5 linked regions of the Homo sapiens genome follow. The protein of the gene in region 1 purifies or fractionates together with the protein of each later gene. This does not show direct contact. Each region holds a gene or a part of one and is shown in the gene's direction. Other genes may lie near its edges. The genes, in order: MYO1D, FSD2, SAAL1, ATP6V1A and FEZ1.

Region 1 (6,267 bases):
ACTTTAAGGAGGGGCAATGACATCAAGTTTGCCTTTTTTTTTTTTTGAGATGGAGTCTCGCTTTGTTGCCCAAGCTGGAGTGCAGTGGCACAATCTCAGCTCACTGCAAGCTCTGCCTTCCGGGTTCATGCCATTCTCCTGCCTCAGCCTCCCAAGTAGCTGGAACTACAGGCGACCGCCACCACGCCCAGCTAATTTTTTATATTTTTAGTAGAGACAGGGTTTCACCATGTTAGCCAGGATGGTCTCCATCTCCTGACCTTGTGATCCACCCTCCTCGGCCTCCCAAAGTGCTGGGATTAGGTGTGAGCCACCGCACCCGGCCGTTTTTTTGTCTTTTTTTTTTTTTCTTTTTTTTTTGAGACGGTGTCTCTCTGTCACCCAGGCTGGAGTGCAATGGTATGATCTCAGCTCACTGCAACCTCCACCTCCCGGGTTCAAGCAATTCTCCTGCCTCAGCCTCCTGAGTAGCTAGGATTACAGGCACCCGCCACCATGCCTGGCTAATTTTTGTATTTTTAGTAGAGATGGGGTCTCATCATGTTGGCCAGGCTGGTCTCAAACTCCTGACCTCAGGTGATCTGCCCACCTCAGCTTCCCAGAGTGTTGGGATTACAGGCATGAGCCACTGCACCTGGCAAGTTTGCATTTTTAAAATGATCACTCTGGCCTTAGTATGGAGAATGTTATGGGGGCTAGAGTAAGAATGGAAGCAAAGAGGTCAATTAAGGGGATATTTTGTTAATCCAGGAAAGAGATGAGGGCAGCTTGAATCAGAAAAGTGAAAGTACAAATGGGGAGAGGAGGATGATTTGAAATGGACTGTGTTGAGAAAATAAAATCCATAGGACCTATTATGTGGAGAATGAGAGAAGCAAGAATAATACTTTAACATGGTCTGGCTCCAGCCCACCTCTCCCACCTCATTTTATACTATACCCAGCCCCCCTTTCTTCAGCCCAGCACATTAGTCTTCTCTCAGTCCTCACAGATTATCCTGATCCCTTTCTCCTTCCAGTCACAGGGCCTGTGCACATCTGTTCCCTCTGCTTGGACTGCTCTTCTCTCCTCTCTTGCTTGGCTACCTCTTACTCATCCTTCTGGTCTCAAGTATCACTTTCCCAGAGAGGCCTTCCCTAACCTTCCTGAGCACTGCATAGATTAAATTTCCCTAAGACCCCATGTACCTCTCCTTTAGTGTGGATGTTTATCTGCGAGGTGGGGGGCAAGTGAGAGAGACAGAGAGAATAATTTTTTCCTTCACTCTATTCCCTAAGTTTCTTGGACATTGAGACTATGTTTGTGTTTGCCTAGACCTGTATCTCTAACAAACTATATATAATAAGTATTCAGCAAATATTTGTTGAATAAATCAGTGAATTTCTAAGTGGTGCTATTTATTTGTGGCTAAAAGTAGGATAGGAACAGTTGTTGGAAGAGGAAAGATCAAGAGTCCTTTGAGTTTGAGATGGCTGTGAGCCATTGAAGAGTCAGTGTCAGGTAGACAGTCAAGCTCTTGAGTCAGGAGCTCAGAGACTGTTCTCTGAGTCTGGATTTGGATAATACTTTTGGGAGTCATATTATATTTGTATTATTTAATCCTGGGTGAGATGATTTAGAAGGTGCTAGAGAGTGAAGAGAAGAGGACCAGGAAGAACTCCAACTTTTACAAGTCAGGTAGAAGAGGAGACTCTACCAAAGGTCACCAAAAAGGAACATCCAGTGAACAAAGAGTAAAATTCAGAAAGGCTATTATCCGAAATCCAGAGAGAAGAGTGTTCCAAGAAGGCAGTGAAAACCTAGGTTGAGTGATGCTGAGCGACAGAGCAAGATGTCCATATGAGGTACGAGAAGTATCTATGTAGAGGTGCTGGGAGTCTTTGATGAGCCATTTCAATGGAGTAATAGGATGTAAGTGGAGACTGGAGTGGATTGAAGAGTAAAGGGGAGGTAATGGATATGGGTGAAGAGAGTGGGTAGCTGGCAGGAGACGTTAAGGAAGGTTTTCTAACGATGTGACGTTGCAGAGCACATGTGTATCGGGATGTGAATGTGTGTTAGCGTGTGGCACCTTTGTCCATGTGTGGCTTAGTGTGTGTGTTCTTGTGCATTGGATGTGTGTTCGATTCTCAGGGAATTTCAACCCTTGATCTTTGGCTCAGATCTTCATTTAGCATTAGAAATCAATATTTATATTTTTTAGAATTCATATAGCTTTAGTGGATCATAGATATTAACTCACTAGCTCTCAACTCTTTATAGTTGATGAAATTAATAATAAAGCAATGAACTGGCTTATTCAAGGGATCAGGCAAACTATTGATATAGCCGGGCAGGGAAACATGCCTGGAGAGTGTCGTTGGAATTGGTATAATGACCGGTAATAATCTTTTAAAAATACAAGCTATTTACTTTAGTTTTGCATACATCAGGTAGTTTGGGTTTTTTTAAATGGACAGTCTACATTTTCATTTGTTCTGCTGAGGCCAGTAATGGCTATGCTAAACAGTGAGAAGGTGGACAGGAATTTAAAACTGATCACAAATCCAAACAGAGGACTCATTCCCAAATTGGCAAGCATTTATGATGCTATTTTCCTTGCAGGCAATATATGAGCGCCTTTTTTGTTGGATCGTTACTCGCATCAATGATATTATTGAGGTCAAGAACTATGACACCACAATCCATGGGAAAAACACTGTTATTGGTGTCTTGGATATCTATGGCTTTGAAATCTTTGACAACAACAGGTAAACTGGAAAAGATACTTAAAACCTTGTTGCCTGTTTTCTATTTGTTGAAACTTAATTTATTCCTTTTCTTGTAGTTTTGAACAATTCTGTATCAATTACTGCAATGAGAAACTGCAGCAGCTATTTATTCAGCTGGTTCTGAAGCAAGAACAAGAGGAATACCAGCGGGAAGGGATCCCCTGGAAACATGTGAGTGGACTCTTATGGAAAATGCCTTCATGTGTTTCTCATATTATTGATAATGTCAAATTTTATTTTAGGTATTTCTTGATCTTTTGGGGGTATTTGAAACATCTGAACCTTAGCTTTCCTTTTTGGGATATGTAAATACAATTAATTTCATCATTTTTAGGTGGGATTGCTATAATTTGATAGACTGCCTTGTTGATGCCCAGAACATCCTGAGTTAGAACCAGTAAACCTGTTTTCACTTTATGGCTGCTACCACGTGGACTTACTGGTTTATATCTGTCTGTTAGGTTTAGCATACTTTATTAAGTTATACCTTAAATTGGCTGAACTTTGCTTCAGAATCTAGTTTCTTCTTCCCTTTTTCCTCCTTTTTCTCCTCTTCTACTTTGTAGACTATATGGTATTTTATTGTCTTCAGTTAATGTTGTTTATATTCTCTGAAACCTACACATTAAAATACTTGTTTTACTTTGCATTTTCTTGTGTATTACACTTCAATTATCACCTCTACTCTAATCAATCTTTGGGAACTTTTGTATTTGTCAGAGGCAAACTAATCTGGTAAGATATAGCTGGAAAGTATAATGGGTGCACAGTGCAAACCACAGAGATCAAAGCTAAAAGGCATGACTTGTTTGGTTTTTAAATTTCCTGTGATAAGACCTTCTGTTTATGATAGAAATGAGACATAGTAATTTTTCTTGTAAGTTTGTATTTTTAAGCAATTTTGAGAATAAACTTGAAAAATACAAAAACTTTTAAGTTTCTGTAGTTTGAGTTTATATGATTGTTCATCCTCTTGCCAGAGAATAGAAATGAAGCCAGTATTTGTTTTTTGTTATCCAATATAATAGCAGCAAAAAAATATTTGAAATACTATATTTAAATGACTTTTATCTTCCTTCCTACCTATTTTCTATTTCCTCTCATTCTGAAATAAAGAGACAGTGATATAACAAATAGCTTTCCCGCCTCAAAATTGTATCTGCCTTCCATCATGTGTTAAACGTTAGAATACCATAAAACAGTTGCTCAGGTATATTGGCATAAATTTTACCTATCTGCATATAAACCAAAGGGCTATTTTATATAAGAATTATCTATAGTTTGACTTAAATAATGAACTCTCCTAATACAATTAAAATTTAATTCAGTTCAATTAAGTGTATATGAAGCTTTCTAAGAATGAAACTGTTGTATAATATAATACACGGTATAACTGAAGCTTGGATTTTTAATACCAAATTTAATCATAAAACTTGTTATTCAAATGTGATTCCAAGGTACTAGTCAAAAATATCCTTTCACAATCAGAATATCAAATTTCACAGACATAATTGACAACAGGGTAAGTAATGCAGTGGACTGTTCCAAACATCTCAAAAAGAATTAAGAATCCCAAAATGCAAAAAATTTTCGCTAAATAAACCAAGAACTATTTGTCCTAGAGGGAGCAGAAGGCTAACTCCAAGGTAACAGTTACTTACTACATGGCAGATCCCCCCACAATTAGAATCTCTATTCTGGGTAAAACCCCAAACTTCTAAACATAGTGATTCTTTTTAAAAGATTTTTTATTATGGAAAATTTTAAACACACATTAAGAAGACAGACTATAGTACAGTAAACCCTATATACCCATCACCTGGCTTTAACACGTACCAGTTGATTGCCAGTCTTATGCCATCTGTACTATACCCACCTACTCCCAGATTATTTTGAAGCAAATTTCAGATATCACATTATTTCATCTATTCAATTGGGTATCTATTCAGTAAATATTTCCATGTATTTCTCTAAGAGAGTTTTACAAAAACCATAATCACAATGCCATTATCATACCTAAAACATTAACAAAAATTCCTTAATATCATAAAATATCCAGTCAGTATACATGTTTCATATTTCCTTAATTGTCTTCTGGTTGTTGTTTTGCAGGTTAAATTTGGATCCAAATAAGTTTCTTACATTATGATTGATTGATAGGTCTCTTGCATATCTATAGATTTTCTCCATGTTTCTTTTTTTCCTTGAATGATCTCTCTTTGCAATCTTGTGTTGAAGAGAATGAGTCATTTGTTATGGAGTTCCCCACAGTCTGGATTTTGCTAATTGCATTCCTCAGGTGCCATTTAATATGTTTCTCTGTTTCTTGTATGTCCTGTATATTGGTTGTTAGATCTAGAGTCTTGACTGGATTCAGAGTCAGTTTTTTTCCACAGCCCATTTCATAGACTGTGTGTGAACTTCCACCAGGAGGTTCATAATGTCTGGTTATCTGGTACATTCACTTTTAAAAGCTTTCGATGCTGTAGTTTGCAAATCATTTTAACTATTGAGAACTTGATACTCAAGCACAAAGCTGTTTTATCTGGAGTGGGTATGAAAGGCCAGAGCCCCATGTCCCTAAGCTACCCCATCACAAGTCTTCTGGCTCCTGGTATCCCTTAGGAAACCTTACGGGAATGCCAAGTTGCTGGAAGAACTTAGTTTGAAAACTACTGGTTTAAGCAATGTTTGAAGCAGTATTAAACTTACAAACTGAAAGTTACTAGCAGAGACCAATAGCTTTTAATAATATAATTGGGATTTTAGGGAAGGTAATTCTTTAGTCCCTGGGACAAAAGACTTCGTCTTTAATTTCACAGTCCCGAAGTCTAAGATGTCAACTATTAATATAGAGCTCCTGCTTTTTGAGTATTTTTAGGATTTTTTTTCCAAAGATGGAAATAACTTTTCTCCCTAATTAGAAATGTAATAAATGCCCATAATGAAAGTAAATATTTAGACCTACACTGCTTCACCTCAGTACTACTGAGATTTTGTGCCAGATAGTTCTTTGTTGTGGAGGCTGTTCTATGCATTGTAGGATGTTTAGCAGCACCCCTGGCCTCTACCCACCAAATGACAGTAGCACCCCTACCCCATTTTGACTAGAAATGTCTCCTGATATTGCCAAATGTCCCCTGGTGAGCAAAATTCCCCCTATTCCCCTATTTGAGAAACTTTAGTTTAGACAGATCAGAAAAGTATAAAAAACAAAGTAAAAACTACCCAGTTTACAGGTTTCAGTCCATAAGATACAGAAGAGAACATGCAAGACTAGAAATGGAGCTAAAAGCCATGTACAAATAACTGGCATAAAACCTTGGATTTTAAAGCATGAAATGGGAATACATGAGTCACTTGAATGGTCTATTATGAGTATATAGACCTTATAGAAGGTAATGGAGACAGCAATCAGTTTAGGTAACTCCTGCGTAAGATGGGACATAGCAAGATTAAACTGTGTGATCATAAGCTGCCCCTCTTTGAGATGTGC
Region 2 (6,267 bases), on another chromosome or scaffold:
CCGCAGCAATATAGACAGTGGCAATTATGAGCTTATATTTCTGTATAGTACAATTTAAATACATTGGATTATTTCCAATAGGCAGCTGTTAGGGGGTTAACAGCAGTTAACACTTTCAGCTCTAGTCAGAATTGTTTGCTCATAAACATAAATCAAGGACCTTTTTTTTTTTTTTTTTGAGACAGTCTCACTCTGTCGCCCAGGAGTGCAGTGGCGTGATGATCTCGGTTCACTGCAACCTCCAACTCCCAGGTTCAAGCAATTCTCCTGCCTCAGCCTCCTGAGTAGCTGGAATTACAGGCACCTGCCACCACACTCGGTTAATTTTTGCATTTTTAGTAGAGACGGGGTTTCACCATGTTGGCTAGGCTGATCTCGAACTCCTGACCTCAAGTGACCCACCCGCCTCAGCCTCCCAAAGTGCTGGAATTACAGGCATGAGCCATTGCACCTGGCTGAATTGACGGCCTTCTATGGGCCCAGTACTGTACTAAGAATAGCGGTACTCAGCCCCTGACCTCAGAGACATTATGATCCTAACAGACGGACAGAGACACACTGGATTCTACTGCATGCACACTCCATGATGCAGTGTTAACCATATGCCAAGCACAGTGCTGGGTGCCTGGGAAACCAGAATGAGGGACTTGGAGAGGAGACAGCCACAAACACAAGAAGTAGCAATGAAGTGAGAAAAGCAGACCAGAGACTGTGGGAGGGAATGCAGAGGGGGAGCCAGCACTCCTGGCTATGCTGCTGTTAAATGTGGGTCAGAGGACAGGAGCGCAAGAGTGAGTTAAACCTTCCAGCTTTGAAAGGGATGCCTGGTGCTTGGGCCTGGGTGTCCTAGCCCCATTCTGACTGCAGCTCTGCTTCCTTGTACAGGTCTGTTGTGGGCATCCCGACCTGCGAGTCCGTGGTGCAGCTGCAGCCGGGGCGGAGCTACATTATCTATGTGCGAGCCCTCAATATGGGGGGCCCCAGCGTGAGGAGCGAGCCAGCTACAGTCCACACCATAGGTCTGTGCCCCAGCCCACAAAGTCTCTGGGACCCAAAGTGGCCACTCTGTGGCAGACCCAGTGCTGCTATGACTTCACTGGGAAATTGATGAATATGCACAGATGTGGACACGTGGCAAGTCAGGCCAGAAGGAGTTCAGGGGTGTCCCATACTGCCCTAATTGCAAGTCAAATGGATCATTAAGAAGTCCTTCAATTCCTATTTCCCTTGGCAAATAGGTTAGAAATTCTTATCCATACACAGGCATTACAGCTAGAGGTAAAGAGCACAGCCTCTGGAATCAGAGGGGCTTGGGGTTCAAGTTTAAGTTCTATCATTTGCCAGCTGATTTCTTAACCACCTTGTGCCTCTGTTTCCTCATCTACAAAATGGAAATAGTGACACCTGTTTCTAAGGGTCGTCGTGAGGATTGAAGGGGATACTAGGCACACAAGACTGCCCGATGAGTGTCAATTGCCATCCTTGTTAACTGGACGCCTATTACTAGGCCAGGTCCAGGCTTAGGTGTATCCCACACGAAGCTAAACCGGTGACCACCGCCCACATGGAGAAAGCAAGTGATTGGCTGCGGGTCTTCTGTGTGTTCCTCCTCCCACAGGAAGCTACTTTCGCCTAAACAAGGACACTTGCCATCCCTGGCTGACCATTTCTGAAGACGGACTTACGGCTGTACGAAGTGAAAGGAGAACCCCCGCCAGGGAGCTGTCACCCAGCGACACTCACTTCACCAGGTACTTTGTCAACCGCTCACAAGGGCGTTCTGTGAACTTCCCGAAGGTGCACTGTTATTCAGGTCAAATCCGAATATGGCACGGAGGCAGCCTCGAGGGAAAAGGAATCCTACAAATGAGTGAGGAGGGAGGAGCCTAATGGGGAGGGGACCCAGAGGAGTGTGGGCAAGAGGGGTCAGGCAGGTGCAGGCAGAAGAGCCCCCTGGGACGGTGAGGTCAGGAGAGGGCGCGGTCCCCTGGGAGGGCATGGTCCCTGGGTCCTAGGCTGCCAGAGCTGGAGCAGCCAGAGGTCATGAGGGTGGGACAGGAATTACTAGTGGAGGGTGTCCAAGTTCTTGGCGTTCTGAACAAAGAATTGGACAAAATGCACAAACAAAGCAAGGAAAGAGGCCAGGCACGGTGGCTCATGCCTGTAATCACAGCACTTTGGGAAGCCGAGGCAGGCAGATCACCTGAGGTCAGGAGTTTGAGACCAGCTTGGTCAACATGCTGAAACCCCATCTCTACTAAAAATATAAAAATTAGCCGGGCCTGTTGCGGGTGCCTGTAATCCCAGCTACTCGGGAGGCTGAGGCAGAAGAATTGCTTGAACCCGCGGGGCGGAGATGGCGCCACTACACTCTAGCCTGGGCAACAGAGTGAGACTCCTTCTCAAAAAAAAAAAAAAAAAAAAGCAAGTAAAGAATGAAGCAACAAGAGCAGAGATTTATTGAAAACGAAAGCACACTCCACAGGGTGGGAGTGGGCCAAGCAAGCGGCTTAAGGGCCGGGTTACAGAATTTTCTGGGGTTTAAATATCCTCTAGAGGTTCCCACTGGTTACTTGGTGTACACCCTATGTATATGAAGTGGCTAAAGTGAAGTTACAAAGTCATTTACTGGGTGTACACCCTATGCAAATGAAGAGGATGTTTCCTGCCATGCTGAAATACAAAGCTATTTACTTGGACTTAGAAGGTTGGGGTTTTTCCGTTTAATTTAGTTCTAGGAAGTCCTTAGGTTCCCTGCCCCCAGACCCTGTTCTCCTGCTTCACAGGGGTCATGCTGTGGGCTAGTGGGAGAACAGAAACAAGGACCCAGGTCTCCCACCAGTTAGCCCAGTGCTCTCTCTCCTGCACTGTGGTACCTTACAGCAAAACTCCTGATGGAAAACTGGCCATGGAGTGAGTCTGTTCCAAAGTTCAAGGCAGATAATTGCTTTGTACATGTACATATGAAAGAAGCCGGAAAGATCATGTTTGGAGAAATATAAGGAATTTGGTATGTCTGCGGTATAGGATCCATGACGGGAAGAGGTGGAAGATGAGGCAGGAAAGTCGGAGAAAGTCCAGTATACACACAAAAAGTTAGGATTTTATCCTCTATGTGGTGAGAATTATTGGAGGATTTAAAGCAGGGGAACAAGATCAGATTACATTTCAGAAAGATTCCAGTGCATGGTAGAACGTGAGCTGGGGAGGGAGAGGGAAAGGCAAAGGCAGATGGGAAACAGAGACCAGAGAGGAGACTATGGAGGGCTTGACTACGCAGTAGCATGGGTGAGAGGAGCCAGGGGAGTCAACTGCTGTTGAGCACATAAAACCAACAAGGCTAGGTGCTCACCTGTTTAAAGGGCAACAGAGAGGAAGATGAGTCAGGGACTATCATATTGCCATATTTATAGAGTGCTTACCAAGTGCTAAATGTATTTCATCTCATGCAATCATCCTAACAGCCCTGTACTATTACCAATCCCAGTTGACGGATGAGAATACTTAAAACACAGAGAAGTAACTTGCCCAAGAGTATAATGCTATTAAGGGTTGAAGCAGGAATCAAACTAGAAGGTGAGCTTGTAGCCACTACATTATTCCCATCTTAGTTTTCCACCAGGGGGTTACCGGGTAGATAATGACTCTATTAACCAAAATGGAGATGTGAGAAGTATGTACCCCTCCCCACTACACCCCAAACTTTGGTAGATAAGAGGGGTGGGAATATGACTTTTTCCATTTGGGACATTCTGAATTTGAAACAACAAGTGGAAATGTGAGTCTGGAGCTTGAAGCAGAGATGGCCTCATTTTATAGGTGAGGTAACCGAGGTAGAAGTTAACCAACATGCAACCTCCTTCCCAAAGCTTTGCTTGAGCAGTAAGAACTTGGGGTTTTGAAAGTAGAGAGAAAATTTTAAACTGAACAAATCTTTCTAGGGATGTTGAGGTCTATATATATTTTGGTTAATGTAGGAGTCTCCTGAAGAAGGTAGAATATTCACTTTGGAGATACCAGTATAATTTGATTTTCACTGAAAACCTTCCTCTGTTGATACTTTGCTGATGTAGAACAAAACATAACTCTAATCTTTGTCAGTATAATTGTTCCCAGTGCAACAGTGGAGGTAGATTTTAATGATCTGTGAGGAATCTGCTATCTTGTTCTCCTTGGGCTGGCCTCTGAATTCCACCAGGAGTCATCCCTAACATGATGGCTACCTCAAAGGCCTTCCATGTTCATTTAGTACCATAAGCAATGGTGGTGAACTTCAAGCTTATGGTTCCCTTAACCGTGCTGTGTTGTGTATTTTCAACCCTTTTCTTTTTTTATGAACAAGTGAACCAAACCTTTTTCTATGAAAGCCCCAACCATTTTAAAGAGCAAACAAAACTTGTTCTGTTGGTTTAGTGCCTCCTCCTCTCCCATTACCAAGCAGTAACATAATCTCAAATCTTCAGTATCAGCCCACTGAGCTTTGAGAGCTAAGGGTACTTTACAAGTTAAGTGTCCAGAAGCACCTACCACCACGTTCGTAGACCACCGACTGACTGATCCCAGCAACTGGCATCACTGACCTGCACAGCCAGGCTTGGGGCACCCCAGATCACACATGCTTCCACTTTCTAAAACCAGGTGTGTTGCTGTCATGGGAAATCTAATTCCAGTCCGAGGGCACCATTACTGGGAGGTGGAGGTGGATGAGCATTTGGACTACAGAGTTGGTGTGGCCTTTGCAGATGTCCGTAAACAGGAGGATCTGGGAGCAAATTGCCTCTCCTGGTGCATGAGGCACACATTTGCATCATCAAGGTAAAGTAAAATCTGGATACTCACAATTAAAATTTGCTTTTGAAAGATTACAGCAAGACCTTTTCACTAGCAATAATTAAGACACACGTTATATTTTACAAATATTTTAAGATATTTCAGGAGTTGCTGCCAGCCACTTTCCCTAAAGTCCAAGTAAGAGGAGAAAGAGCAGCTTTTCTTCAACTAAAAATAGCTAAAATTTATGGAGAATTATGTGCCAAGTACTCTTACATGCATTATCTCATTTACTTCTCACAATTGTGTTATCTCATTTGAAAAATCAGAATGCTGGGTGCAGTGGTGTGCACCTGTAGTCCCAGCTACTCAGGAGAGTGAGGTAGGAGTATTGTTTGAGCCCTGGACTTCAAAGCCAGCTTGGGCAACATAGCAAGACCCCGTCTCTAAAAAAAAAAAAATAATAAAATAAAAAAATAAAATAAAATAAAAGAATAAAAATAAGAAGACCACACCTCACAGCAATTAGATAATCCAAACGACATGGATTTGGAACTTGGATTCAAACTCAAGCAGTCTGGTTCCAAAGATTTCATTCCTAACCACTTAAGTGATAGATTTTTCATTTCTGTTCACCTTTAGTATTAAGCCAATACAGTTTGCTTTGAAGCCCCAGTTCCATCTTTTTAAGTAAATGTGGGCAAGAGGCTTAGTAGTTATGGCTAATTCTGGTTTGCTCCTGCTGCTGGGCACTCTGTCTTTACACATGGAGTAGTTCCATATAGTGGGAAAAAAAGTCTCACGAAGCCCAGGCCAATGAATACACTTTCAGACTTAGAAGGCCATGGTTACAACCTTCCTTCACCTCAAAAACTGAAAAACAAGACCCCACACTGCTTTCCTATCACACCTTGTAAAATGGGGCCTCTGACCCTCCTTGATTTGATGAATCCTATTAATGTTCATCCAATGCTCTCTGCCCATGATCCTCTATCATGGTTATTTACACATTATGTGTCATGCCCAAGCATAAGTGGGAAAACCAACTTCCCCTCCGATAACAGATGAAGACTCTAATGAAATCTACTAAACCTCACACCCAGTTTGGGGAATCCAAGAATTACTATACACTGAGGCAGATACTTTATTTGGGGATTCTGCCTGAAGTAAGACTAAAGAGCAAAGTCTCTTCTTTAGAAAGGCAAGAACAAGGGGCAGAGTAAAACTAAGGGAGCATAAAGAAAGCCTAGAAGTCCACGTGTAGAGGGAAGAATAAAGGGGGTAAGAAGACACAATAGAAGAGGGGTGGAAACAGAAGAATGACAAAAGAAGGGCAAAAGCTACAGTCCAAGTGCTAGAGCCAAGCCAGTTTCTTACAGATGTAGGGTGTGTGTGTGTGTGTGTGTGCGTGCACGCACACACGTGCACACACGTTACAAGTGGAGAATGAAGGTAAGGTATCCTAGGATAAGGTCTCCTAGCAGACTTGCATTTTTG
Region 3 (6,267 bases), on another chromosome or scaffold:
TTTATCCTCACACTGGATTATTTTGCTTTCACCTTGAGAGTCTTCCTCAGCTTCATCCTTTTCCATGCCTGAGGGCCCTCCTCCTCTTGCATCTTGATAACTGAGGTGCAGTTTGGAATAGTGGTTAAATGCTCAAGCTCTGGAGCTCTGCCGTGTTCTAGTTGGAGATCTTAAGATCTTAGGCAAGTAGCTTAACTTCTCTGTGCCTTAGTTTCCTCATCTGAAAAAATGGGGATACTATTAGTACCTATCACCTAAGTTATTATATGAAATTATACACAGAAAATGCTTAGAGTAATGCCTGGCCACCGTGAGTGGTAATAAACTGTTATTACATATTAATTAACTATTACTGAGATAGATTCTTAAGTTCTTTTCAACTTCTTTTCCCTATACACTAGTCTCCCCTTATCCTTGGGGGTTGCATTCCAAGGCCCCCAATGCCTAAAACCGAGGATAGTACTGAACCCTATTTATAATATGCACAAATTTCCTTTTCCTTCTTCACAGTTTCATGGATAGATTTGTTCTTAGAGATCCTAAGCAACCTCAGCATACATTTTTGTTTGTTTTTCTTATGAAGTCAAGAACTTTTACCTTTTCATGTAAAGAAAGCACTTAATGGCGGCTCCTTGGCATATCCAAATTGCCAGCATCACTACTCTTGTGCTTTGGGGTCATTATTAAGTAAAATAAGGGTGACATGAACACAAGCCCTGTGAGATATCCCGATGGTCGATCTGATAGCCAAGATGGCTACTAAGTAACTAATGGGCAGGCAGCACATACAGTGTGGATATGTTGAACAAAAGAATGATTCACATCCTGGGTGAGACGGTGCAAGATTTCATCGTGCTGCTCAGAAAGGCATGCAATTTAAAACATGAATTGTTTATTTCTAGAATTTTCTATTTAGTACTTTTATACCAAGGTTGACCATGGGTAACTGAAACCATGGATAAAGAGGGACTACACTAATACATTATGCATTTCGCCACCAGAGTAATCTTCCTAAGATACTGTTTCAGTATGTTGTCTCCCCTCCTTGAGCATCTTCATGATTCCAAATAACTTCCCAGATTAAGTCTAATTCTTCAGCACGGCATTCAGAGCCCTTAATCTCAGTCCTTTATACCTGCAGTATTTACCTCATGCTGTTCACCCACTTTGTGCCACAACCAGAGTACTTTATTGTCTACAGTATTCGCCATGTACATGATTCCCTTCCTGCCTTTGCTGATACTTTCCCCTTATTTGAATGTCTGTCTTTTTGTTTGCATATCTCATTCCTATCAATCATTTAAAACTCATTTTATCGATAGAAGTTCTTCTCGCATAGCTCCTGCCTTTGCCCTTTCTTGTTCTTACGTTTTTCATCCCTTCTCAAATACTGTAAGCTTGTCAAGGTTAGGGTACAGGCAGTATATGTATTTCTTTATCCTGCCTCCCCTCCGCCTTGCCCCAAAACTTGGCTCAGCGAAAGTTTTTGTTCAAGTTGATATTTTTGTTTACGTCTTTCGTCTCAGAGCCATTGTGACTTGTAAAATTTGATTTGGCAGGAAATCTGTGTGGGAATTTTAGGTAATATGGCCTGTTTCCAGGAGATATGTGTGTCCATCAGCAGTGATAAAAATCTTGGGTAAGTCTTACTATATAATTATGTTTTTTAATATATTCATTTATATCCTTAAGGAAATTCTAATACATAGGAAAAGTAGCAAATCTGAAAGACAGTCCTTTCTTTGTCTTGATGAACACTCTGTGGGAACTTCATTGTGTGTTGATGATAGCTAGGGGCTTCTTCAGGAGATACTGAAATGATTCAGGATTTAAGCCTGTTTTCTTCAGTAGCAAAGGAACCTGAATTGTCAGCTGGTGGCAATAAGCCAGATAGGGGAAGAACCAGTGGGCCAAAACTTGGAGATGGGGCAGCCAACTGGAATCCAAAACAGTTTAGGGGCAGGGAATCCAATGACTCAGCTGGAGTCTACAGAAACTAGATTTGTTGAATAATGTCATCCTGAGAGCTCTGACTTAGAGTGTAAGACTTGCCAACAACTGGAAGATAAAGGGTTGCCTCTCTGATGAAAAGACTTTCAGATATCTGCTTCGAGGCTCGTTCTCTTCTCCATGTGTAAAGTTCTGGGCAGAAGGTGTTTTAATGGAGGAAACCCCAGTGGTTACTGTGTTCGGAGAACACCCCGAAATTATATGCTGAATTTTGTGAGTGTATTAGTTTTCTAGGCAAAGGGTTCATGGCTTTTAATCAGAATCTCAAAGAAATTTGTACCCAAAATAGGTTAAGAAAACTGTTCTAGGCAGTTTTTGTCAGAGCTGGGGCCATGAGGGTTTTATCACAGGATTCAAGTACCTGGGTTTCTCAGAAAGAGAGAACTCCTAGTTGTGGAGGGACTTTAAGATCCTAGTTCAGAGTATTTATTCCTCAGTAATTTACCATCATCCATGGAACAAATGACTTAAGATTATGTTTGGTCTCTAATGTTCTCTATCAAAAATCCAAAAATGAGAAATGTTAACAAATGTTATAAATTCAGTTAAATGCTTGTCTTAATATTAGTGTGGTGCAATTTATATTGCTGATGGGATATAAATTTGTTGAACCACTTTAGTTGGGCATTATCTGGTCACGTTGGAACATATGCATGTGCTGTGACCAGCTCATAGTGGGCATATATGGTAAGAGAAACTGTGCACGTGTGCATCAGGATAACTCTTAACAAATATTGTAGGAGGATTGCTTGAAATAGCCCCAAATTGGAATCAACAGAAATGTCCATCAACAGTAGTCTGGAAAAATAAATTGTGTTATTTTCACACAATGGAGTGCTCTGCAGCAGTCTGTCAAAGAATAACAGCTAAAGAAACAACATGGGTAGATCTTACATGTATAATTTTCAGCAAATAAATGAAGACTCAATAAGTATAATTTATTTCATATGTTGTCTCCCCTCCTTGACTGTCTTCATGAATCCAAATAACCTCCCAGATTATGTCTATTTATTCAGCATGTCCTCTTAATCCTTTTACCTGCAGTATAAAGCAACACCAAAATATATAAAATAATAAAACTATAGTGCAAAGTAAGGAAATGATTGCTGGAAAAATCAGAATGGTCATCATTTCTAGGTGGGAAAGAGAATTGTGATTTGGAATGGACACATGGTGACTACAAAGATGCAGCTCTGTTCTGTTTCTTGGAAACACGAGTGTTTGCTTTATAATTATTTATTAACTATAGATTTGTATCTTTTGAGCTTTTCTGAATATATGCTGTATTTCACAATAAAGATGTTCAAAAAATTAAATGAAAACTCTGATATTTTAAATGCGAGAAGTGAGGCATATCGGTTAACTTCTTTGTTTTTGTAGGCAGGTGTTATTGCACTGTTTGTATGATTCAGACCCACCTACTCTGCTGGAAACAAGCAGGTATGCTTTTCCTTTTATGAATTCTATAAGGTTACTCATAAGAGTAGATAAGAAAAAAAAGTTAATTTTTTATTTTCGAATTTCCTTTACTGTTTTTTTTTTTTTTTTGAAAAGTAGAAATTCAACCCACGTTTACCATGTAGGTTGTTGCTTACTTGCCTTTCCCAGGCAGAAGTGGCCAGTGTTTGGGTTGAAAGGATCCAGGAACATCCAGCTATTTATGATAGCATTTGCTTCATTATGTCAAGTTCAACAAATGGTAAGTCATCATGTACTCTAGAAAAAAAATGTTTTAAATTGTATCTAATTTTTAGGAAACCATGTAACTATTTCTAGAAGTCACCTTTTTAAAAAAAGCCTTGAGTGCAAGGTAATGAAGTTTGTTTGAGACAGAATCTTGCTCTGTCACCCAGGTTGGAGTGCAGTAGTGTGATCATAGCCTACTACAGCCTCAAACTCCTGATCTCAAGGTATCCTTCTGTTAATCTCCCCAATAGCTGGGACTATAGTCATGCACCGCCATGCTCAGCTCATTTTAAAATTTTTTGTAGAGACGGGGTCTCGCTTTCTTGCCCAGGCTGGTCTCCAACTCGTGTGTTCAAGCAGTCATCCAGCCTTGGGCTCCCAAAAGTGTTGGGAGTATAGGTGTAAGCCACCATGTCCAGCTTTTTGTTTGTTTTTTTGAGAAAGTTTTTTGATTGAAGATACAAAATTTCTTAAACTCCTGGGACACTGATAAATTCCTCATTTAAAAATGAGGAAAGATAAGCAAATTTAAACATAAAAGATAAGTAAATCACCCTTTAGAATAAGTACTGCTTTGGCAAGATTTGGTTTTCTTAGAATAGCTTTAGGAATTTTGCTTAACCCTATTGCTTTTAGCAGTTTGTTTTTCATTTCAATATCTGTTTTATTCTCTGCAGTTGACTTGCTGGTGAAGGTGGGGGAGGTTGTGGACAAGCTCTTTGATTTGGATGAGAAACTAATGTTAGAATGGGTCAGAAATGGGGCTGCTCAGCCTCTGGACCAACCCCAGGAAGAGTCTGAAGAGCAGCCAGTGTTTCGGCTTGTGCCCTGTATACTTGAAGCTGCCAAACAAGTACGGTAGGTGAGCTCTTTTGTGTAAAATGTTCTGGGAAAATGCAATTGCTAGAAGTATTCTCAGATATAAAAGTCTTCTTATATTCCTTACAACAGAATAAAGTACATAGTCACTCCTTGTTACGTTAATTCACTACTACTATTTGTGATGCAACCTGTATAGTGGTTACAAAGTTCCTGTTATATTATCATTTAGCTATAGGCTGTTACTCAACATTAACTGTGGTTTCTGTCTTACCATATTTTATGTAATTTAAATCAAAGAGAAAACATTTTCTTGTGCTTTATTTTACATTGAACATTTAACAACTTCATTAACGTTGCACATCATTTGCTTTTTTTTGCTCCTTGTGTTTATATGCCAGTCTTCAATAAGTGACCGATGTTGGGACTCTGATGTCTTGCCAAGAGTGATTACTAAGCCTTACAGGTCATTAAAACTGTTTATTGCTAATCACTAGAAAATTAATTTTTAAATTGATCTGCTTAGTGTTTTTCTTAGTGCATTCTTAGTGCTGAGTAAGCCACATCAAAACCTATTAATTTTGTGTCCTTTATCCAAGTGAGGGATAAATTCATCATCTTTCCCTAAACCTGCTTCATCAGTATTCTCAATCTCAGTAAATGATGTAATCATTATCCTATTTGGATAATGTAGAAGAAATGGAGAAGCCAATTACTGAATCTTTCCTGCCCCAGTATTTTCCCATTGCAGTCAACTCCCAACCCTTATTCCTGACATTTTCTGGGATTCCATCCATGCCAATCAAGCCATTATTGTTTCTCATCTGGAGAACTGCCACATTCTTTTACTTGAATTCCCTGCCTCTATGCTTGCTCTTCCCAAGCCTAGACTTTAAAGCTGTTTTTGCAAAGTACGCACTCATTTCACTCTCATGCTTCGGTCTTTTCAGTTGCCTTCCTTAGGATAAGGTCCAGAAAAACAAACAAACAAACACAGCTTGGGTACTACATACATCACCTGGGTGATGGGACCATCCATATTCCCAAACCTCAGCATCATGCATGTAACAACCCCCAACATGTACCTTCTGAATCCAAAATATAAATAAATAAAATAGGGGAAAAAAGAATGAAATAAATGAAAAATTCTCAAAAAAATAAAGTACAGCTTATGGACCCAGTAGCGCTATCCTTATTCCTTGTACTCTGCGTTTCAGTCATGTGAAGTTTGCGTCACTTCTTCAACTGAACCAGGCTGTCTTGTCTCCAGGCCCTTGCACAGTATGTTTCCTCCACCTCAGACACTTCTTTGCCCCTTCATGTTTCTGTGTAAACATCATTTTTCTTAAGATACCTTCCCTGACCCTGCAAACTAAGTCTCCTTGCTTTGTGAAGTTCCTAGCCCATAGTGCTACATTAGTACCACTTTATTGTAATTACCCCACTTGGAATCTTCTTTCCTTTTAGAGTATAAAGTTTATGAAGGTAGGGATAACATCTTATACATCTGTTTTCTCAACTCCTAACATAGTGCCTGAAATTTGTAAGTACTTAAATAAACATTTGCCAAACCATTGTTTTAATTGTTCACTGTCTTTTCACTTGTTTGGTTGAAGAACTAAGATTTTGAGTTTCCAAACTATTTAGATTTTTGAGAATCCAAACGGTTGATCATAAGAATTAGACTTACATGGTTTTAGTGTTCTCAGCTAGGGAGCTAGGTTAATCCTGAGACATTTTCAGAACATCATT
Region 4 (6,267 bases), on another chromosome or scaffold:
ATACATAATGTGCCCTTTTCATCTATGAAATATGTCTTTTATTTTGGAAAAATTTAGAAAATTGCATCTGAAACTTTTTCATTATGGCTGTCTTCTTCAAATATACCAACTAGACATGTTAGGTTTTTGTTATCTATTTTCCATGTGCATCATTTCCTCTCTACTCCTTTTTATTTAGCCTTGTGTCTGTTCACAGGATAAATGGTATTTATTCTTTGTGTTGCTTCTAATGAAACCTTCACTTCTATTTCTTTTTGTTCTTTCAGCTCATCAAGTATCTCTTCTTATCTTACTCCATATGCCTTGAGATTTTATTTTGTAGTAGGCTGCATTATTAGGGTTTTTTTTTTTTTTTAACTGTGGTCACAGTTTTCATTTATTCTTTGACAAGTTATTTGACCATCATTGTATTCTTCTCTTCTGTCTTTTTCCTTATTTTATTTTTGTTTAGATATCCTGTACTGATATTTATTATTACTATTACTCATCTTTGTAGGAGATGAGAGGGCTGGCTGTGACTGTGTACCAGGGTAGCAGGAATTCTTCATGGTAACTTGTGAAGTTTATTATGGCATGCAGCTGTGTAAAAAAGCTATTTTACTCTTCTTGCCTGATACCAGAAATCAGCAGCTGTAAGACCATTCACAGTGAATTCTCCTCTGTCTCACCCACTTTTCATTTAGTGAAAATAGGGAGTACCTACTTGTGTTTTATTCATCCCTATCTTCCTGCTTCTCTTTGATGCCAAACTGAGTACAAGGAACTCCTTCCTGCGACTGGCCATGTAGCTTTTTGCAGTGTTCCAAACAAAGCACTCTTGCTTTGTTTGGAAACAAACAAGGCACTTGAAGATGTGCCTTCAAGTTTGCAGAAGCTTTATCTGAGATGCATGGCCTCAGATGAATTCTTGGCATTTTTCCATACCCTTATTTGGTTTTCACCTTATTTAGGTGACTTTTTAAATTATATTGTTGTGGGACTATGTCTCCTAGTTTTTAATGACTAAATTTGTATTTCTGTATTTCTTGTTCTCCTTGTTTGGAGGTAAGTTTTATGAGGAAGAGACAGTGACATATTCATCTACCATTTTAAGAAAGCTACCTTATTCTTTTAAATGGCTGCACAGTATCCCTTTGTATGGATATATCATAATCAATTTAACTGGCATCTTTTTGGTGGACTATTGGATTCTTTATCGTCGTTTACGATAGGCAGCACTAAAACATCCTTAAACATATATTTTTACACTATTCTTTGTATGTTTTGCATGCATGTTTCTTTGCATGTTTTTTTTTTCCTTAGAGACAGGGTCTTGCTCTATCACCCAGGCTGAAGTGCAGTGGCATGTTCATGGCTCACTGCAGCTTTGACCTCCTGGTCTCAAGGGATCCTCTCATCTCAGCCTCCCAAGTAGCTGAGGCTACAGACATGAGCCACCATGCCTGGCTAATTTTTTTATTTTCTGTAGAGATGGGGGTCTCACTATGTTGCCCAGGATGGGCAACTTCTAGCCTCAAGAGATCCTCCTGCCTTGGCCTCCCAAAGTCCTGGGATTATAGGCATGAACCACCATGCTTGGCCTCTTTGTACATTTCTTAGGGTAATTTCTTAGAAGCAAAATTCCTGCCAATACAGCTGCTAATTATTATTTTACATTCTGATAGCCCTTCAAAAGGGCTAACTGTGGACAAGAGTTTCTGCTTCTCAACATCTTCACCAATGCTAGTTTTTTCAACACGTTCTTATGATAATTATCAAAGATACGGAAAAGTTGAAAGAATGTTACAGTGAATACCATGTACCCAGCACTTAGATTTGACAATTGAAATTTTAACTATTCTTGCTTTATTAGATACCTGTTCAATCTGTATTTAACAATGAACTAGCATCTTTCTTGTGTGTATGAACCATTTAAAAACTGCCTTGTGTTCATTTTCCTTTTGGATGATAGTTGTTTTTCATACTGATTTCTAGAAACTCTTTTTGGTTTTTTGTTGTTTTTTTTTGTTTGTTTGTTGGTTTTGAGACAAAGTCTCACTCAGTCACCCAGGCTGGAATGCAGTGGTGCGATCTTGGCTCACTGCAGCCTCTGCCTCCTGGATTCAAGCAGTTCTACAACCTCAGCCTCCCGAGTAGCTGGGATTACAGGCATGCACCACCACCACACCTGGCTAATTTTTGTATTTTTAGTAGAGATGGGGTTTCACCATGTTGGCCAGGCTGGTCTCGAACTCCTGACCTCGGGGGATCTGCCCACCTTGGCCTCCCAAAGTGCTGGGATTACAGGCTTGAGCCACCGCGCCTGGCCAGAAACTCTTTGATTAATGAATAAATTCGTCCTTTATCTGTCATGAGTTGCAAATATGTCCCAGCTTGTTTATCTCTTGATTTTGTCTGAGGCATATTTTTCTTGTAGGCACTGATACCTGTAGGTCTGTCAGAGAATTCTCACTTACTCATATGTATCTGTCTTTTCTGCCATTTCTTTCTAATATCACAAGTATCTGTGACATTTCATCACAGATTTAAAACACAGCATGCTTGTATAAGAAAGAATCTGTTCTTATTAGATTGGAATATGTGGTAATTATTGTGTTGTTGAAGCCTTAATATTGATAAGTAATGTTTCCTAAAGACTTTCTTCATGAGACCATTTTATGGATGCCTGAACAGTCAGTATTTTTTATTCTGAAAGATGCAATATGATAAATAGGAAAGTACTGAATTTTCCACTAATTATGTTAATTTTACTTATATAAACCTCTGTTTCTTTACCAGTAAAATAAAAAAACCAAGGCATTATAAAAGTTCCAAAATCTTTTGGAACTTTTATAATATAACTATATATTTTTCCTAATATCTTAGTGTTTCATAGCGCTTTGTACTTTTTAGATGACATTTATTTAATTCACTTCATCTGCCATATATACAAGTATATAGGGCAGGCGTTATTCCATTTTTAATAGGTTAGGAAGCCACACTGGGAAATCAAGTTATTTTGCTAAGGTTAATGACAGAATAGGAACTAGAACCCAACACTCGTTTCTGTATATTAGCTGCTTATAAGTGGTTTACTGTCTAAATTTACAGGATAGGACCTGATCTGCATAGCAGAATAATCTGGACAATTAAGATATTACTCATTTTAATAACATTTGCTACTTTTGAAAAGTAACCACCCAAGCTGATTGGTTAAGGGTTACTTTTGCATGCATACATGTTTGTGTGTGTGTATGTGATATATAGAGAGAAGCTACATTTGAAAATTAATTTCAGACTTAATTATTTCAACAAAGAATAGAGAAAGTCATTTCCTGCTTTCTAAAATGTGCATTATATTAGGGCCAGCTAGGCTATGGCATCAAATAATTCCAAATATATATTTGCTCAATATAATAGATGTTTATTTCAAGTGTTCAGGGCACTCTTTACTCTGTCATTCTGAGCCATGATCCAGCCTGAAATGAGCTCTACCATTTTCAACACATGGCTTCCAAGACTACTGGGAGTTCTTTCCATTTCAGTAGGCCAGAAGGAAGAAAGAGTATGGAAGAGCGTGTGACTTGCCTGACCGTAGAACACATTATTTTGACTTGAGTTTTGTTAGCCAGAGATCAGTTACATGGCCATATCTAAGTGCACAGGATGCTAGGAAACAATTCAGTGTGTGCCCAGAAAAAGAGGAAGAGCAGCTTTGAGGGAGCCACTAGCAGTCTACGTTGTGTACTTATTGCTTTAAGGTTTTCTTAAGGGTGGAAAAAAACAGGATTTTTATATGCTAGCATTGTAACTTATAATAATATTCTTCCCAATTTAGGAATCACACTGTCAGAGTACTTCCGTGACATGGGCTATCATGTCAGTATGATGGCTGACTCTACCTCTAGATGGGCTGAGGCCCTTAGAGAAATCTCTGGTCGTTTAGCTGAAATGCCTGCAGGTAAGTCTGTGTATTGCTTATCATGTAAACAAGACTGATGGGATTTTCGGGGCTGGCTTAGAAACTCTGTTTTAAAATTTCTTTTCATTTTTCAGATAGTGGATATCCAGCCTATCTTGGTGCCCGTCTGGCCTCGTTTTATGAACGAGCAGGCAGGGTGAAATGTCTTGGAAATCCTGAAAGAGAAGGGAGTGTCAGCATTGTAGGAGCGTAAGCACCCACACTATTTACTTTGCAAAAGGAAAAAAGTCACAGATGTATTAAAGAGAGAAAAAAAGTCACTTATTTTAAAGAGAGAATATTTAGCTCCCGCTGGGAGCAGCGGTTCTTAAGGAGGGTTGCACTCCAGAGTCACCTAAGGAGCTCTTTGAAGATGCACATGTTTAGGCAATTTCTACATGTCCTGGTTCCATAGGTTTGACTTTAATTTATATATTTATATGTTTAATTTAGATATTTATTTAATTTTTATAATTTAGAAAATTATAGACATAATAAGGTGAGATTGCATCACGGTAAAAAGAAAGTGAAGATTCGTGATCACTACATAAAGCCATACTTTTTTCTTAGAGCGTTTCCTCCTTGCTTCATCTATTTGATTAGAATAATAAAATTGATTATAATAAAATATCTATCTCATGTCTCATAATAGAAGGTGTTCTGTAGTTTCTATTGTTGTTTACAACTTAAATACTGGCTTTTGTTTAAGATTTTTAGGTAAGATTTTCTTTCCAAAGGTCATTTCTAAAGTTATTTACATTAAAAAGTTATTTACATTAAAATCGACTTTAAAAAAAGTTAACATTTATATATATGTTATTTTTCATAAGCATTTCTAATGACCATTTTTTTTGTAATGACCATATTTTTTTTAAATTTAGAGTTTCTCCACCTGGTGGTGATTTTTCTGATCCAGTTACATCTGCCACTCTTGGTATCGTTCAGGTATGTCTTTCCCTAGTATAGTCAACTTCTGAGCCTTTCCTCCTCTCTGCAGCCCCTGCTGTTCTAATGCGATCTAATGTAATCGTTGTGAAGTATTTAATTTAGTCTCTAAAGGATAGGCAATGGTAAAGTCTGGTTTAGAAACACTCTTAACACAGAGCCTTTAATACTGTCTGTTTTTTTCTTAGCTGTTTACATAGGATTTATAATAAACTTAATAATATATAAGTGGAAAATATAGGTAGCAAAAATTTTATTAGTATTAGAGTAGTATTATCCTTTAAGTCATAGTAACCCTAGTTATAGAAACAAAGAGGCCCAAAAATGTGTAATACCCAGAAGTTATTTCACTTCACAGTATGATCCAAGGCTCTCTTCTGTTTAGTGATAATTCTGAGTCCAGGATTCTTTCCATCTTGTGACTCCACTGTCACCTAGCCTGGTGATCATCTGCATCTAGCTGACACAAGGGAGCTGGGCCTTGTGGAGAAGGCATACCCACCTTTTTTGAACCTTGGATTCAAAAGTGACACAGTCACTCCACTCATTCTATTAGCCACATCCAGGTGAAAGCAAGGCTGGAAAATGCAGTTTCTGCCTAAGCATTTGCTTTCCAGTGACAAGACATGAATTTTAGTGGATAGGTAGCCAGCTTGGCTATTAAAAGAAGCCCAAATAAAAGATGTGTACAAATCAGAGCTATAGTTAAAAAAAAAAAGTGATATGTGTATATTATTCATGTGGGAAAAACAGAATATTTACTTGTGTTTCTGACAGTATCAGAGAAAAGGAAATGTCAGAGGCTAAATGTACAACTCTCAAGCTTTTTAACGTTTGCTAAAATTTTGAGTTTTAAATTATGGGGAAAGAGGGAACAGAGTTAGAAATGCATGGAATATCTGTGAATGTTTGCCCTTACAAAAATCACTGTCAGTTGTTGTTGGATTGGCCCTGTGAATGATAGGCAACTAAATTTAATCAAAACACTTAGATGTTTTTGTTTTGTTTGTTTTGATACGGAGTTTCACTCTTGTTGCCCAGGCTGGAGTGCAATGGCACAAACTTAGCTCACTGCAACCTCCACCTCCCGGGTTCAAGTGATTCTCCTGCCTCAGCCTCCCAAGTAGGTGGGATTATAGGCACCCGCCACCACACCTGGCTAATTTTTTGTGTTTTTAATAGAGACAATATTTCACTATGTTGGCCAGGCTGGTCTTGAACTCCTGACCTCAGGTGATCCACCCGCCTCAGCCTCCCAAAGTGCAGGGATTACAAGCGTGAGCCACCATGCCTGGCCCAGAACAGTTAAAAAAAAAATTTTTTTTTTTTTGAGATGGAATCTCACCCCCATCATGCAGGCTGGAGTGCAGTGGCGTGATCTC
Region 5 (6,267 bases), on another chromosome or scaffold:
GGAACTGAAGGGAGTTCTGTGTGTGCAGCGTTCCAGGGTGCAGTGCCCAAGATGGTTATGGAGTATGGCTTTGGAGCACATGGGTAGTTGGGTCTGTTTCTTACAGGATACAGGATAATAGATCATTTAGTCTATTCCTCTGCTCCTAGGCATATGCTCTATGTGTGGGAAAACCTTGGGTGCTTGTCTGGGCACGGTGGCTCATGCCTGTAATCCCAGAACTTTGGGAGGCTGAGGCAGGTAGATCACCTGAGGTCAGGAGTTCGAGACCAGCCTGGCCAACATGGTGAAACCCCATCTCTACTAATAATACAAAAATTAGCTGGGTGTGGTGGCACACGCAGCTACTTGGGAGGCCAAGGCATGAGGATTGGTGGAACCCAGAGGTGTAGGTTGCAGTGAGCTGAGATCACACCACTGCACTCCAGCCTGGGCCACAGAGTGAAGCTATGTCTCAAAAGCGAAACGAAACAAAAACAACTCAGGCATTTATTGGAAGGTCTCTATTGATGTTTTATTAGTTTTTTTAAAAAAATAAAAATAGAGATGGGACCTTACTATGTTGCCCAGGCTGGTCTTGAACTCCTGAGTGAGCTCAAATGATCCTCCCACCTCAACCTCCCAAAGTGCTGGGATTACAAGCATGAGCCACCACATCCAGCCAATGTTTTATTAGTTTCTACTATTTATTGATAAGGGTAGTAATATCTAGGTATACAAACCCTTATCCAAAACCCCTGGGGCCAGGCATTTGGAATTCAGATTATTTCAGATTTTGGAAAGTAGTAATAGAGTGTACATTCCGCATTTCATCCAGTGGGATCTGGGATAGCAATCTTTGTAATTAAAAAGTTAATATTTCTGCAGCAAAACACACAAAATGGGATAAATTAAAGCCATGAACAGCTTTATATTCATGTTGGTCATGTTTAGTTGCCAGATGAGTTTAGATCATGTCACATTTTGCTGCCAAACAAGTCATGGAGAATTTTCAGCTTTCAGATCACATAGTTAAGGATATGGATCTGTGGTAATAGTAATAGTAATAAAAATAATAATACTAAAACACCAACAGAAAGTATTCAATAATATTGGCACTTATTATCTTCCAGGTACTGTTTTAAGCACTCACCTGTGTTTACTCCTTTAGTCTTCTAACAGCCCTTTGAGGTGGGTTCAGTATTATATCTGTCTTGAGAAGAATAAGAAGCACAGAGCAATTAATCACTTGCCCAAGGTCACAGCTGGTAGGACAGAACAGAATGCAAACCTAGACGATCTTGTCCAGGAGCTTCGTACTTAACCAGTGCCTTGTTTTTTGGAGTAGGGAATTGGAAGCAGGTGTGTCTCTAAAGTTAACTCTATTATTTAGATTAGCCTGGTCTAAACTCACATTACGCTGTTCATTTCTTTTAGATAAACTCATCCTGAAAGTCGCTGTTGTTCTCCTGCTGAGCAAGAATGGAGGCCCCACTGGTGAGTCTGGATGAAGAGTTTGAGGACCTTCGACCCTCCTGCTCGGAGGACCCGGAGGAGAAGCCCCAGTGTTTCTATGGTTCATCTCCCCACCATCTCGAGGACCCCTCCCTCTCCGAGCTTGAGAATTTTTCTTCCGAAATAATCAGCTTCAAGTCCATGGAGGACCTCGTAAATGAATTTGATGAGAAGCTCAATGTCTGCTTTCGGAACTACAACGCCAAGACCGAGAACCTAGCTCCCGTGAAGAACCAGTTACAGATCCAAGAGGAGGAGGAGACCCTTCAGGACGAGGAGTAAGAAGTCTTAATTGCCCTCTCCTGCTTCAGTCGAGAGCCCTGTAGTCCTTGTCTCCTTGACATAGTGCTGGTTTCTGTCTATAGGTTTATGGGCTATTACTTTCATTTTCGTGTTGCCAGCGGAGCAGTGCCCTGGTACTTGCTGTCATAGCTCTATATATGTCCCTTTACAGTCCCCTGAGGAGAACTTTCTTAAATTGAAACCTTAGAGGAATGAAGGTTTTCCTAGATACAAAATGGAATTTCAGGAGCACAGTAAATTTCAGGGTCTGTCTATCTTAAGCTTTCTTTATATCAGTGGAAATCCAGCGAGATATTAGAAATAAAGGCCAGAAAAAATTAATTAACCATGATGGATGAATCTATGTTATTGGACTAATTTGCTTCAAGAAACACCAGAATTTTGAAAATCCCGAATTTTTGACAGCCCCTCAGGCCTGGAGAGTTATCTACAGATGTTAGGATATGTCCACATAAGAAAGCATCTAAACTGAACTGAGAGCACAGCGGGCTACCCTGGACAAAGTAAAGGTGGAAACTAGGTGATGTGGCCTTTGAGTATGCAGATTCCTTGTATCACTTGCTCGCTACTTTCTAGGGTCTTAATAGTAGTCAAGAAAAGGGATCTGAGAAAAGTACTCTTTCAGGAGGGACTAGAAAGAGAAGGGGGTGATATGTTACACAAATTAAAGAAGGATGTCTTAGGCATTTAGTAAAAATTCAGTGGTTCCCCGCTATCCTCGGGGGATGTGTTTTTTTGTTTTGTTTTGTTTTGTTTTTTTTTGAGATGAAGTTTCATTCTATCGCCCAGGCTGGAGTGCAATGGCACAATTTTGGCTCACTGCAACCTCCACCTCCCAGGTTCAAGCTATTCTCCTGCCTCAGCCTCCTGAGTAGCTGGGACTACAGGTGTGCGCCACCATGCCCGACTAATTTTTGTATTTTGAGTAGAGATGGGAGTTTCACCATGTTGGCCAGGCTGGTCTCGAACTCCTGACCTGGTGATTTGCCCGCCTTGGCCTCCCAAAGTGCTGGGATTACAGGCGTGAGTCACCACACCTGGCCCATGGTGGGGGATATGTTTTAAGACCCCCAGTTAATGCCTGAAACCGCTGCTAGTACCAAACCCTAATGTTTTTTCCTGTATGTACGTACATATGATAAAGTTCAGTTTATAAGTTAGGCACAGTAAGAGACTAACAACAGCTCACAGCAAAATAGAGCAATTATAACAATATATTGTAATAAAAATTATGTGAATGTGGTCTCTCTTTCTCTCTCTCTTTCAAAATATTTCATTGTACTGTACAGCAGATAACCGAGCCCTGGGAAAGCAAAACCACAGATAAGGGGGGACTACTGTCTACATGAGTTCCCTGCAGAGATACAATATGCATCCATTGTTCTTAGCTATCACACAAGAAATGTCAAACGTCAGGGAAGTCTGAAGCACCTGTGCTTTTGTTTCCCTTTTTGTGGATTTGAGTGGGAAGAATGGCCCACAAATAATGGGGTAAGAGGCACGTCCTAGAGGATTGGAACCTGACTGTATTTGGGAGAGGGTTGCTTATTTGATGACTACTGTAAGACTCTACTTTTACACATAGAGGGGCCAAATATCTGTCTGATTCACTCTTACAGCCCCACTGTCTAATACAGTGCAATGTGCAAATAATATTTTTGAATGAAATATTGAATATCAAATAAACTAGATGAGTGATAATAGCTAGTAGCCTTGTATGTACATGTAATATATTTCTAAGCCCACACCATTTCCTTCTTTTCTTTTTAATTAATGCTGGCCGGAAGGTATGATCACAGAGAACATTTCATTCTGCTGACTAGTACTATAGCTGTGGGCTATGTGTTTAAATTTTAAGTTTCAAACAGATTCTTTTTAGATTCTGAGCCTGTTATCTGCTCAACATTTATAAGTCAAAAAAGAATGGCTCTGGGGGTTTATTATGCCGAATATTTTTTCGTTCTAGTGCACCAGCCAATGAACTAGAAATACAAAGACTATGAATTCTAATTTTGGTACTCTCTCTAACTCGCTGTGTGACCTTGGGCAAGTCATTTAACCCTGGTTGACTGTGTAGGTCCTCATCTATGAAACCTCCAGAGCTCAATCTTGATGAAGTGAGGCTAAGGACTTGTAAAGAACCTAATTTCTTACCTCACCCAGGATGCCCAGGTGCTCTGAAAATGACATTTCAAGATGCGTCCCATTCCTTTTGCTTCCAACAAATCATTTCCCCCCTATCAAAACCCCTCCTCTGCCTCATTAAGGATGAAGGCCCAATGAGCAGATTCTTACTGTCTTCTAGCACATTAGAAGAGGCCACTCAATGTTAATTACCATCACATGGGATTATTGGCCTCCTCAGCCTGATTTTTCTGACTTGACTGCCTCATTGACTGCCTCAGTTAAGAGACCAAAGATTGAATAATTCCTTCGAGATAAGGTATAATTTGGGGACAGTGTAGCGGGAGGAAGCTGGGAAGAGAAAAATTAACACAACACTTTCTAGGCATTCAGTTCTAACCCCTCTTTATAATTTAAAATAAAAATCAGAATTCTGTTACACACTTTGTTTCATAGACACTATCCAGATATTTCAACTGTGAAATTATGGCTAAGTAAAGGAAAAGGGTGACTTAATATCTCACCTGACTACACTTCTCCTGAACATAGCTCTAATGTTATTGTTATAAACTTGTTCCGGTTTAGTATTTAGAGGGCTGTTTCATCCACAAATGAGTGAAAAGTGCTGTGGATGGGTTAGAGGTAAATAATAGAAGCTTAAAACAAAAGCAGGGAAATACTTGGTTAAACTGCCTCCTTAAAGACAGCACAAATCATAGAGCAAATGTAGTGATTCCCTTAGAAGCTTTCTTTAGTCTTCATTTGGAACTATTTAGCCAAGAGGGGAGTTGGCTAAGATTTGTCAACTTATCTCTGATCTGTCAGGGCATGGAAGTTCTAGGCATTAAAGGAGAGTCAGATTTGAATACACATTTTTTGGTTTTGCATTCAAGAAATATCCCAGAATCTCTTCTTTGTGTATATGTGACCACCCTCTTCCTTTGCCATAAGAGATTGGGCCTGGAGGTCACAGCCTCTTAGGGGTCACTACAAAATGGAAATTGACGGCCCTCAGCTTACCTCCTACGTCACTGGGGATCCCTATCAGCCCTCTTACGAGTACCCTGAAGACAGAGGGGCTAACCATGCAATGGCTGTTTCTTCAGATAGAATTGTTATAGGTGATGTTAAAAATAAAGTGCACACAATAAACTGCCTGTCATCAGATATACTACATGTTGAAGACAAGTAAATACCAAATAGTCAGCTAGGGAAAACTACACATAATTGTGATTTTTAGAAAATTTAATTCTCTTTTTAGAGGTTATAGAAAGCGGATATAGTATTGATTCTATTTAAACATTTGAGGACATCTAGAAAGTTGAGCAAACGCATTAATGTGCTGCTAATAATTTCTACTTTCTTTCTTTTTGAGACAGAGTCTCACTCTGTTGCCCAGGCTGGAGTGCAGTGGCATGATCTCGGCTCGCTGCAAGCTCCGCTTCCTTGTTTCAAGCAATTCTCCTGCCTCAGCCTCCCGAGTAGCTGGGATTACAGGCAAACGCTGCCACGCCGGACTAATTTTTTTTTTTTTTTTGTCTTTTAGTAGACATGGGTTTTCACCATGTTGTCCAAGCTGGTCTCGAACTCCTGAGCTCAGGCAATCCACCCGCCTCAGCCTCCCAAAGTGCTAGGATTACAGGCGTGAGCCACCACGCCCAGCCACTAATTTCTACTTTCTAAACATAAAGTGCAAAGGTGTACTCAAATTAATACACATTTGGGTGTGGATATTGGCATGACTGCACACCAGCAAAACACTAGACAAGGGAAGTAGCCAGGCTTGAGGGAAATGTCAGCAAGTTAGAATTCTAATAAGCCCTTTAAGCTGCCTGCCATATTGTCAGAAATAGGTATATAAGGGTTTACGTGTGCATCAGGACTGAGAGAACCCTGATGGCTATGTTGCCAGTTCCAGGCCCTGGAGTTCTTTGTACACGTGTCCTGGCACCCCCCAGTCTCCACCCTCCTCCACTGGGTTTGCTCATACTCTGCCAGCAGCCTTTCCCAAAGCCCCTGCTCTCTGTGGCGAAAGATACTTAAGTCAATTCTACAGGCACCTAAGCCCAAGCTATAAAATATGCACCTGAAAAAGCCTTTTCTGTTATACAGGGATGGAGAGAGCAAATTGAATCTCAGGTGTCATGGCAGCATAATGATAGGAACTGAGGCAACCTGTTTAATCTTAGTTCTCTGATGAATGATAGAGGAGATAGCTTTCAAAGTCTTCTTTCCCCAAGGTAAGAGTAAATAGCAGGATGCTTCTCAGGGAAGTAAAACTTTACAGTCCACCTCCGGGTACTCACAAAAGGGGTGATGCACACTCCCAAGAACCCTGCTTATGAT

Evidence for each region.
Region 2: the proteins of MYO1D (region 1) and FSD2 purify together in Homo sapiens (co-immunoprecipitation; one large-scale study listed by IntAct). This does not show direct contact.
Region 3: the proteins of MYO1D (region 1) and SAAL1 purify together in Homo sapiens (co-immunoprecipitation; one large-scale study listed by IntAct). This does not show direct contact.
Region 4: the proteins of MYO1D (region 1) and ATP6V1A purify together in Homo sapiens (co-immunoprecipitation; one large-scale study listed by IntAct). This does not show direct contact.
Region 5: the proteins of MYO1D (region 1) and FEZ1 purify together in Homo sapiens (co-immunoprecipitation; one large-scale study listed by IntAct). This does not show direct contact.

What each region holds. Positions count from the first base shown.
Region 1 is NC_000017.11:32,756,965-32,763,231, reverse strand, and holds part of MYO1D (unconventional myosin-Id), read left to right. Parts: intron 1-2,604; coding exon 2,605-2,750; intron 2,751-2,827; coding exon 2,828-2,942; intron 2,943-3,105; coding exon of another isoform or gene 3,106-3,120; exon of another isoform or gene 3,121-3,420; intron 3,421-6,267. UniProt on the Homo sapiens protein: Unconventional myosin that functions as actin-based motor protein with ATPase activity. Plays a role in endosomal protein trafficking, and especially in the transfer of cargo proteins from early to recycling endosomes.
Region 2 is NC_000015.10:82,760,650-82,766,916, reverse strand, and holds part of FSD2 (fibronectin type III and SPRY domain-containing protein 2), read left to right. Parts: intron 1-885; coding exon 886-1,019; intron 1,020-1,618; coding exon 1,619-1,751; intron 1,752-4,638; coding exon 4,639-4,815; intron 4,816-6,267.
Region 3 is NC_000011.10:18,087,617-18,093,883, reverse strand, and holds part of SAAL1 (protein SAAL1), read left to right. Parts: intron 1-1,559; coding exon 1,560-1,639; intron 1,640-3,390; coding exon 3,391-3,450; intron 3,451-3,593; coding exon 3,594-3,709; intron 3,710-4,373; coding exon 4,374-4,554; intron 4,555-6,267. UniProt on the Homo sapiens protein: Plays a role in promoting the proliferation of synovial fibroblasts in response to pro-inflammatory stimuli.
Region 4 is NC_000003.12:113,791,055-113,797,321, forward strand, and holds part of ATP6V1A (V-type proton ATPase catalytic subunit A), read left to right. Parts: intron 1-3,817; coding exon 3,818-3,940; intron 3,941-4,035; coding exon 4,036-4,150; intron 4,151-4,821; coding exon 4,822-4,885; intron 4,886-6,267. UniProt on the Homo sapiens protein: Catalytic subunit of the V1 complex of vacuolar(H+)-ATPase (V-ATPase), a multisubunit enzyme composed of a peripheral complex (V1) that hydrolyzes ATP and a membrane integral complex (V0) that translocates protons.
Region 5 is NC_000011.10:125,484,972-125,491,238, reverse strand, and holds part of FEZ1 (fasciculation and elongation protein zeta-1), read left to right. Parts: intron 1-1,416; 5' UTR 1,417-1,461; coding exon 1,462-1,772; coding exon of another isoform or gene 1,773-1,776; exon of another isoform or gene 1,777-3,040; intron 3,041-6,267. UniProt on the Homo sapiens protein: May be involved in axonal outgrowth as component of the network of molecules that regulate cellular morphology and axon guidance machinery.